Regions from separate parts of the Homo sapiens genome. Here regions 1 and 3 are each reported to be linked to region 2. The links are microRNA targets in miRTarBase. Many come from high-throughput screens and were not tested one by one. Region 2 holds a microRNA gene; each other region holds the end of a gene's coding sequence.
The links. Region 2 holds the annotated microRNA hsa-miR-455-3p (GCAGUCCAUGGGCAUAUACAC, at 2,216-2,236, shown strand). A microRNA usually pairs through its seed, bases 2 to 8, with sites in the 3' UTR of a target mRNA and lowers its output. Matches are read on the target gene's strand: a 7mer-m8 pairs with bases 2 to 8, a 7mer-A1 pairs with bases 2 to 7 and ends in A, and an 8mer does both.

Region 1: the mRNA of TRAF6 is a reported target of hsa-miR-455-3p. The part of its 3' UTR that is shown has no 7-base or 8-base seed match.
Region 3: the mRNA of TMEM119 is a reported target of hsa-miR-455-3p. The part of its 3' UTR that is shown has no 7-base or 8-base seed match.

The regions. Positions count from the first base shown.
Region 1 is chr11:36,486,829-36,490,071 of GRCh38, reverse strand. TRAF6 (TNF receptor associated factor 6) reads left to right here. Exons shown (of 7, transcript NM_004620.4): 7 at 1-3,243. The coding sequence ends at 234. Among named protein-coding and RNA genes, the nearest start is that of TRAF6, 22 kb to the left of the region's middle.
Region 2 is chr9:114,207,272-114,210,525 of GRCh38, forward strand. It overlaps MIR455 (microRNA 455), which reads left to right and starts at 2,163; the gene lies at 2,163-2,258. COL27A1 (collagen type XXVII alpha 1 chain) reads left to right here. Exons shown (of 61, transcript NM_032888.4): 11 at 2,404-2,457.
Region 3 is chr12:108,588,705-108,591,958 of GRCh38, reverse strand. It overlaps TMEM119 (transmembrane protein 119), which reads left to right. Exons shown (of 2, transcript NM_181724.3): 2 at 1-2,108. The coding sequence ends at 427. Among named protein-coding and RNA genes, the nearest start is that of TMEM119, 7.8 kb to the left of the region's middle. RefSeq lists an enhancer at 2,453-3,181.

The DNA.
Region 1 (3,243 bases), not on the chromosome of region 2:
CACGAAGAGATAATGGATGCCAAACCAGAGCTGCTTGCTTTCCAGCGACCCACAATCCCACGGAACCCAAAAGGTTTTGGCTATGTAACTTTTATGCATCTGGAAGCCCTAAGACAAAGAACTTTCATTAAGGATGACACATTATTAGTGCGCTGTGAGGTCTCCACCCGCTTTGACATGGGTAGCCTTCGGAGGGAGGGTTTTCAGCCACGAAGTACTGATGCAGGGGTATAGCTTGCCCTCACTTGCTCAAAAACAACTACCTGGAGAAAACAGTGCCTTTCCTTGCCCTGTTCTCAATAACATGCAAACAAACAAGCCACGGGAAATATGTAATATCTACTAGTGAGTGTTGTTAGAGAGGTCACTTACTATTTCTTCCTGTTACAAATGATCTGAGGCAGTTTTTTCCTGGGAATCCACACGTTCCATGCTTTTTCAGAAATGTTAGGCCTGAAGTGCCTGTGGCATGTTGCAGCAGCTATTTTGCCAGTTAGTATACCTCTTTGTTGTACTTTCTTGGGCTTTTGCTCTGGTGTATTTTATTGTCAGAAAGTCCAGACTCAAGAGTACTAAACTTTTAATAATAATGGATTTTCCTTAAAACTTCAGTCTTTTTGTAGTATTATATGTAATATATTAAAAGTGAAAATCACTACCGCCTTGTGCTAGTGCCCTCGAGAAGAGTTATTGCTCTAGAAAGTTGAGTTCTCATTTTTTTAACCTGTTATAGATTTCAGAGGATTTGAACCATAATCCTTGGAAAACTTAAGTTCTCATTCACCCCAGTTTTTCCTCCAGGTTGTTACTAAGGATATTCAGGGATGAGTTTAAACCCTAAATATAACCTTAATTATTTAGTGTAAACATGTCTGTTGAATAATACTTGTTTAAGTGTTCCTTCTGCCTTGCTTACTTATTTCCTTGAGGTTACGAAGTAGCATCTTCCCCAGAGTTTATAATGCTGAGAACCACGTGGATACCAACTGCTCATTGTTATGCTATGTAACCCTTTTTGTCTATTCAGTGCAGAGTGAATTTCACAGCTCTGCATATGTCTTCATTTGTTTAATGCTTACAAGACAGGAGATGCACACATACAATCAGCAACATAAAAATTAAAAGTGACCCAAGTAGTCAGCGCATGTGGCATCTCATTGGTGGTGACAGAAGCTATGTGAGCCAGAAGTTTTCAGCTCTTTTGAATACCCTCTGGTTTATTTCGATTAAAAAGAACAAAATTGATTTCCTAAAATCAGAATTTTTTAAAACTTGGGAGATGATTGGAGATACCTAGGAGGTCACCAAACTAGGATTAGAAGTCACAGTGGTTGTATCACAACTTAGCTTGAGTATGTTGCTGTAGCCTAACAACTGCAGGTTCTGAGAAGGATCCTGTAGAATCCTGGAAGTAACCAGATTTTCCTAATAGGGAGATGATTTTTTTGTGTGCCATCATGTATTTGTTAAAGGCCTATATATAGATATAAAATATCGTGGAATCTAGTTCTCAGGGAGACCCGCAACTAGTATAAGCTTATAAAGGATCTAAAGATCCATCCACCATTTAAAGTTGTCTGGTAATGAGAGATGACATTGTATCCCCCAGAGAGGCCAAATCAGAGTCGCCAGCCAGCGTTCTAGATCAGCCTTAATTTCAAGAGAAAGCCAAGGACCTCATCTGCAGGGGAGTGTGGTTTTCAGCCCCAGCGAGTGTCACTTTGAACTTTCCCTTTGCTTTTTTCTCTCTTCTCCCTCCCCACCCACCCTTAGGCTCCTGATCTGGTGAGTTTGTTATGGAGTGAAAATAAAAGTCAAGCAGAGACCTTGTTTCCCGTGCCACCATTAGTACCACAAGCTCATGGCTAGTTACCACATTACTTCCTGGCAGTTTGTGTCCCTCAGCTGTGCCTTCCAACCAGCGCCTGAGAATCACTGCATACCACCCTCTAGGTAGGGAAACCTACACTGCTGCTGTTCCTGTGATTATTTTACAATGAATAAATAATTGTCAAGTTCCATTTAAAAACTGAACAGTAGTATTTTTGTATTTGCGTAGAAAAAGCCTGAAGGAAATATACTAAACTTTTTGTTGGCTTATTTTCCTTTGCGCTTGCTTATATTTTTTACATTTTCTACAATAAATGTGTACTTTTATCGGAGAAAAAAATTAAATGTTGCCACAAAACATTTAATCTCCACGCCCCCAGCTCAAAAAAGGAAATGATATTTAAAAGCTTCCTGGTCAGATTTCTATTAAAAGCACTGGCTGTGCATTAGATACAAAGAGGAGTCATTTCCTGCCTTGGTGATACTATTTTTTTCTACTAACTCAAGAGTCTTTATTAAAAAAAAAAGTTGTTTTGCCTAATTTCAGCTTTTAGCAAGCTTCCCATCTGTAAAATGATTTGGACCAGATATTTCTAGAGTCCCCTCCAGCCATAACATTCTGTCTCAAATTAAGTTCCAACCAGCAGAACAATGACAATACTTAGGAAAGTATTTTGCCAGTATAAAATGTCTTTAACTTACTCTTTGCTGACACTGATACTTTCCTCTAATTTAGTGTCTATCAGCTGGGTCACATCTTAAGTAAAATGAGCAATTTTAACCCCCAACATTTGGCATTTTGTCATAAACCAGCCAGTTATTTTATGCTGGTCATTCATCTTGACTACAAAGTAGAATAGTCAAGCTGTCATTCCAAATAGAAAACTTTTTACTTCAATCAGAATTAAGCCTTAACCTGGAAAGTTGGTTTCTTCCTTACATTTTCCCAATCTCCTACTCTATTCTTAAACATGCTAGTTTCACTCAGTTGGGTATACAAGCCTTTGGGCTTTATGTTGTATGTTACTAACCACCTTTTACCATATTTATCTTTTGGCATCATTCTGGGACATTGCTAAATTAAAAAAGAAATTGTTTCCACTTTTTTCTGGAGATGTTCAACTAAAGGTTGTTTTGTTTTGTTTTTTGTTTTGAGACAGTCTCACCCTGACGCTCAGGCTGGAGTGCAGTGGTGCAACCTCGGCTCACTGCAACCTCCACCTCCCGGGCTCAAGCCATTCTCCTGCCTCAGCCTCCCAAGCAGCTGGGATTACAGGCACCCGCCACCACGCCCAGCTAATTTTTTTGTATTTTGAGTAGAGACCGGGTTTCACCATATTGGCCAGTCTCGTCTGGAACTCCTGACCTCAGATGATCCGCCCGCCTCAGCCTCCCAAAGTGCTGGGATTACAG
Region 2 (3,254 bases):
GTGGCTGTTAGGAGAGTGTGGGGAGGCGGGAGTGGGGGCGGGGAGGTGCATTCCCCAGGAGGTTACTGTGACAGGCAGGGCCTAAGGAGGCTCTTGTCCCAGGGTGCTGTGCCTCTCTTCCTTTATTCTGCTGCTCCCATGGGCCATTCCCCCAGAGGGACCCCCTAAACCCAAGGAGAAAGGTCTTCTCAGTCCAGCCCCAGTCCTGATCTCCTGACCTGCCAGAAGGACAGGCATGTTAATGACATCTGGGGTTGCTCGACTTGCCTGCCAGGCTGGTGGCATCTCAAAGTCACATAGCAGGAGAGGACTGGTCTGGCCCCAGCACTCCTGTCTCTTACAGGCCACACAGCCCTGGGTGGGAAGCCTGGATGAGCAGTGAGTCACTCAAGCTGCCCTTCCAACCCTGCCACCACCAGCCTCATATTTCTGAAGTAGGCAGAGGGCAGGCTTTGGAATCAGGATGACAGGCTTTGAGACCTGCCCTGCCATTAGCTAGCTGTGGGAGCTTGGGCAAGTCACTGGGCCTCTCTGAGCCAATTATTTTCTCACCTGTAAATCTGGGAGATAAGCACTATTTGGAATGGCAGTAAATGGCACTCTTTCAGATTATGGATATTAATCATGCTGGATGCCAACGAGGAGGCTCAGTGGCTTCTTGGCCTTCCAGGGAAGGAGAGATGGTTGTGAGCCTCCATTGGTTGCTTGTTTGAGGAGAGGCAGTATGCAGAGTGGTTAGGAGCCCAGGCCCAGGAGTCAGAAGACTTGAATTTGAATACCAGTTCTACCACATTTCAGCTGTTTGGTCCTAGGCAAGTTGCTTCACCCCTCTGGGCCTAAATGGTCTTACCTCTACAGGGGGCTGAGTAATAATACTTCCTCAGGGCTGGGCGCGGTGGCTCGTGCCTGTAATCCCAGCATTTTGGGAGGCCAAGGCGGGTGGATCACCTGAGGCCAGGAGTTCGAGACCAGCCTGGTCAACATAGCGAAACCCCGTCTCTACTAAAGTAACTACAAAAATTAGCTGGGCGTGGTGGTGCACACCTGTGATCACCTGTGATCAGCTATTCAGGAGACTGAGGCAGGAGAATCGCTTGAACCCGGTAAGCAGAGGTTGCAGTAAGCCACGATCGCACCACTGCACTCCAGCCTGGATGACAGAGCAAGACTCCGTCTCAAAAAATATATATAAATAAAAAAATAATAAAATATAATACTTCCTCGGGGTGTGATAAGGATGGAATAAATGCTTTAATATATGCAAAGCACTGGCAGCAGGCCTGGCCTATCATTCGTGCTCAATAAACATTAGCTTTTGTTAGAGTTATTATTAAATCATTCCACCAAGAGTGGCACGCAGATAGTGGTAGAAGCCCCGGGCGAGGTTACTGCCCTTTAGAAGTTCCCAGGCTAATGAGGACGTGAAGCATGAACACAAATAATGAAGATACAAGGGAGAAAGTGGAGAAGGATGCTACCGAGGTGCAAAAATGGCACTGGGGATGGGGGGGAGAGATTGCTTCCGGCTTGGGGTATCAGGGATGCTTGCCCAAGGAGAGCGCTTATGAGAGCTGGGCTTTGAAGGATTTGGCTCAGAAGTCATGAGGGATGGGAAGGACATGCCTGGTGGAGGGGACAGAGTGAGGAAAGGCTGGGAGGGAGGAAATGAGATGCATCCTAGGGAAGAGCCCCAGAATGGTGACGAGCCCCAGCTGTGGAGTCAGCTGGCCCTGGGTGACCCTTGAACTGATTAGGAATTCCCGAAGAGAATTCACAGCTCCACTACTGACTAGTCGTGTTGCTTTATCTACAGAGCCTCAGTTTCTTTGTCTGTCCAGTGTGGGTGGTGACAATCTGGGGGGTCCTTGTGAGAGTCTAATGTGGTAGCATGCATGTGCCTGGCACAATGTTGGCACTCCGGGTTCGCAGCCGCTGTTAGTTAATGCCAGCACTCAGGCGGCCAGAGGTGGATGTAAGCCCTACATCCAGGACCTTGAAGGCCTAGGAGGAGCCATGGCAGGAGCCACGGGCACCTACCAGCATCCCTGGGGGTGGGCAGGGCTTGGTGCCGTGCTAGCATCTAACCCAGCCGCGAGCTTCCTTCTGCAGGTCCTGGAGCCCTGGCGTGGGGCGGGCCTCCTGCCGGCGAGCGCCTGCGCCCTTCCCTGGCGTGAGGGTATGTGCCTTTGGACTACATCGTGGAAGCCAGCACCATGCAGTCCATGGGCATATACACTTGCCTCAAGGCCTATGTCATCGAGGAGCCACCGGAGCTGCCACTGCCACCAGGGAGGAAGAGGAGGAGCCGGGATGTGGGATGGCAGTGGTGGGTGGGCTGCGGCAGGTTGGGCCAGCCACACCTCACTGCTTGACCGCTCTGACCCCCTTTCTTCTCTTTCCTAGGGCTACATTGGGCTCCCAGGGCTCTTCGGCCTGCCAGGGTCTGATGGAGAACGAGTAAGTTTGCTTCTTTGGTTATTCACCATCCACAGCCACCCCTGCCCAAACAGAGCAGAACCTGCCAGGCACCAGCCTGGGGAAGTCAAGGAATTCCTCCTGGAGGAGGTGCACTTGAGTCGAGTAGGAGTCTGATAAGGGGACAAGTCAAGGCAGATGCATTCCAGGCATAGGGAACAGCATGTGCGAAGTCAGGGATTTACGGTAACTTGGCGAGTTTAACACTCAACACTGCCAAAGTGCTGCGTGAGAGGGTGAGAGTGGTGGGAGTTGAGGCTGGAGAGGACCCTGGGGCAATGTCTTAGGTGCCCAGGACTAAGGTTAGAAAAGGAACTCTGTTCTGAGGGTATGCGGAGCCTCTTGAGGACTTGCAACCAATGAACACCGGGCCCACTTTATAATATAGATCAGGGGTCTGCAAACGGTGGCCCATGGGCCAAATCCAGCCAGTTGTCTGTTTTTGCAAACAGTTTTATTGAACTCAGCCTTGCTCATTTGGTTACATATTGTCAATGCCGCTTTCTCACTACAATGGCAGAGTTGAGTAGGTGTGACAGAGACCGTATGGCCCACAGAGCCAAAGATATTCACTATCTGCCCCTTTCCAGAAACCATCTGCTGATTCCTCTTTTAGACAGATCAGTTGGTTTACTTGAGTAAAATGTGTTGGTTGGGGGTGGGGACAGCAAGAGCAGGTGGCAGGAGTTCCAGCAGCCAGGGGGAGCGGCTGTCTGGGGAAGGTGGTGGGACTGGTTTGGTGGTGGGCAGTGGGTGCTAAGATTTCCTAAGACACCCTG
Region 3 (3,254 bases), not on the chromosome of region 2:
CCGGGCCGGGGGCCCCCGGGCCTTCAGTGAGGTCCCCGACAGAGCCCCCGACAGCAGGCCCGAGGAAGCCCTGGATTCCTCCCGGCAGCTCCAGGCCGACATCTTGGCCGCCACCCAGAACCTCAAGTCCCCCACCAGGGCTGCACTGGGCGGTGGGGACGGAGCCAGGATGGTGGAGGGCAGGGGCGCAGAGGAAGAGGAGAAGGGCAGCCAGGAGGGGGACCAGGAAGTCCAGGGACATGGGGTCCCAGTGGAGACACCAGAGGCGCAGGAGGAGCCGTGCTCAGGGGTCCTTGAGGGGGCTGTGGTGGCCGGTGAGGGCCAAGGGGAGCTGGAAGGGTCTCTCTTGTTAGCCCAGGAAGCCCAGGGACCAGTGGGTCCCCCCGAAAGCCCCTGTGCTTGCAGCAGTGTCCACCCCAGTGTCTAACAGTCCTCCCGGGCTGCCAGCCCTGACTGTCGGGCCCCCAAGTGGTCACCTCCCCGTGTATGAAAAGGCCTTCAGCCCTGACTGCTTCCTGACACTCCCTCCTTGGCCTCCCTGTGGTGCCAATCCCAGCATGTGCTGATTCTACAGCAGGCAGAAATGCTGGTCCCCGGTGCCCCGGAGGAATCTTACCAAGTGCCATCATCCTTCACCTCAGCAGCCCCAAAGGGCTACATCCTACAGCACAGCTCCCCTGACAAAGTGAGGGAGGGCACGTGTCCCTGTGACAGCCAGGATAAAACATCCCTCAAGGCTGGGTGTGGAGGCTCACACCTGTAATCTCAGCATTTTGGGAGGCCAAGTGCGGACATCACTTGAGACCAGGAGTTCCAAACCAGCCCTGGCAACATTGTGAGACCCATCTCTATAAAAACAAAAAACAGTCCACTAAATCAGCCACATTAATTGGGAATCATATGTCACAGGTCATTTGTGGGGCAAACATCACTGCTTTTCCATCAAGGGAGCAAAGAATAAGTGGGAGTTTTGGAAGAGTTTGGATGAGAGACGCCAAGGTGCCCAGCGTTCGTAAGGCAACATGCAGCCTGGCGTGAAGCAGTATTTTGAAACTGCAAATGGTTCCCTTCTTGTGTCCTTTCAATGCTGAATATTTTAGTGTCATTCTGCCTGTGCTCAGAGCTCCAGCAGCAGAAGTGTGTGTGGTTAATTAGGACACTTCTGTGAGAGGACCCCTGCACACATTACGACAGGTCCCTAAATGAGCATTTCCCAAACTAGGTTCCCCGAGGCACTCTACGGAAACAAGATTTTTTTTTTTGAGACGGAGTCTCGGTCTGTCACCCAGGCTGGAGTGCAGTGGTGCAATCTTGGTGCAATCTTGGCTCAGTGCAATCCGCCTCCCAGGTTCAAGCGATTCTCCCGCCTCAGTAGCTGGGATTACAGGTGCCCACCACTGCGCCCAGCTAAATTTTGTATTTTTAGTAGAGATGGGGCTTCACCATGTTGGCCAGGCTGGTCTGGAACTCCTGACCTTCAGGTGATCCACCTGCCTCTGCCTCCCAAAGTGCTGGGATTACAGGCGTGAGCCACCGTGCCCGGCCCAAACTACTTTTTAAAACAGCTACAGGGTAAAATCCTGCAGCACCCACTCTGGAAAATACTGCTCTTAATTTTCCTGAAGGTGGCCCCCTGTTTCTAGTTGGTCCAGGATTAGGGATGTGGGGTATAGGGCATTTAAATCCTCTCAAGCGCTCTCCAAGCACCCCCGGCCTGGGGGTGAGTTTCTCATCCCGCTACTGCTGCTGGGATCAGGTTGAATGAATGGAACTCTTCCTGTCTGGCCTCCAAAGCAGCCTAGAAGCTGAGGGGCTGTGTTTGAGGGGACCTCCACCCTGGGGAAGTCCGAGGGGCTGGGGAAGGGTTTCTGACGCCCAGCCTGGAGCAGGGGGGCCCTGGCCACCCCCTGTTGCTCACACATTGTCTGGCAGCCTGTGTCCACAATATTCGTCAGTCCTCGACAGGGAGCCTGGGCTCCGTCCTGCTTTAGGGAGGCTCTGGCAGGAGGTCCTCTCCCCCATCCCTCCATCTGGGGCTCCCCCAACCTCTGCACAGCTCTCCAGGTGCTGAGATATAATGCACCAGCACAATAAACCTTTATTCCGGCCTGAAGTCTCACCAGTTTTCTGGGGGGTGGGGGAAATGAGCCTGCTGGGGAGGGGCTCTTGCATGGGGATGGGGACAACTTTCTGGGGAGACACATCAGCCCAGTCCTGGAGGGTGAAGGGACAGATTGATGTGGGAAACAAAGGAAAGACCGGTGCTCCCGAGGAATGGGCTGGAACTCATGTCCCCAGGGGTGGAGCACCAGCTCTGGACTTGTGGCCACGCAGACCCAGGTTCCATGCCCAGCTCTGCCACTGTGGCCATGGGAGAGTCACTCACCTCTCTGTTTCCCCTGCAGGTGGTTGAGGACTGGGACGGGTCTCATGGACAATGCCCCCCTCACTGCACCCTTGGCCGGGATCGGGAGTAGGAGGCAGCCCTGGCCCTGCAGTCGGCCTCTGCCTTCTGTCTCCCCACCCACAAAACTCCTCTTGGTCTTTGATGGCAAGTTCCTGCAGCGACTTCTCCCCCGCACCCTGGGCCTCAGGAGCTGCCAGCTGGAATCCAGATGTGGCTGGGGCTGGGAGCATGTGCTGGGTCCCTGGGGCTGGGGGGCAGTGGGCCATCCCCTGCAGCCCCTCCCCTCCACCGACCCCACCTCCAGCCGGAGGGGGCCCCAGAGTTTTGGGTTTCATAACACACAATAGCCTCTGTCTCACTCAGTGGGGAAGGGCCCTCCCTTTCTCAGCCCAGCCAGGCCTGCCAAGAACAGCAGGAGGGTGGAAGAGTAATACCTGTGTGTGCTGCGTGGCTCTGACCAAATCGACCAAATCATTCAACTTCGCTGGGTGTCACGGGCTGTGCTTTCTTCTTGTTCCCAAGCTCCTGCGGGGTGTTAGTTGTTGTGACGTGACTGGGAAGTGCATGAAGCTTCCCTTGAATACATAAAAATCTAGTAAAACAGAAGCAATCATTAGAGACCCTGGGGGTGCAGACGGGGGTGAGCTCCCTGATCAGCGGCTCCAGTCTGCAGTCTTCCACTAATGCTCAGCGGGACCCTCCAGAGGACATGGAGTCCATGACCTCAGCCATAGCCTGTGACCCCCAAGACTGGTGGGGGATGAATGAAGGAGGTGTTCCGAGCAACAGAGCAGTTCACCTCTTCCTCACCTCTGAGCTTTTACAGCTGCTGTTCCTTCTGCCTATG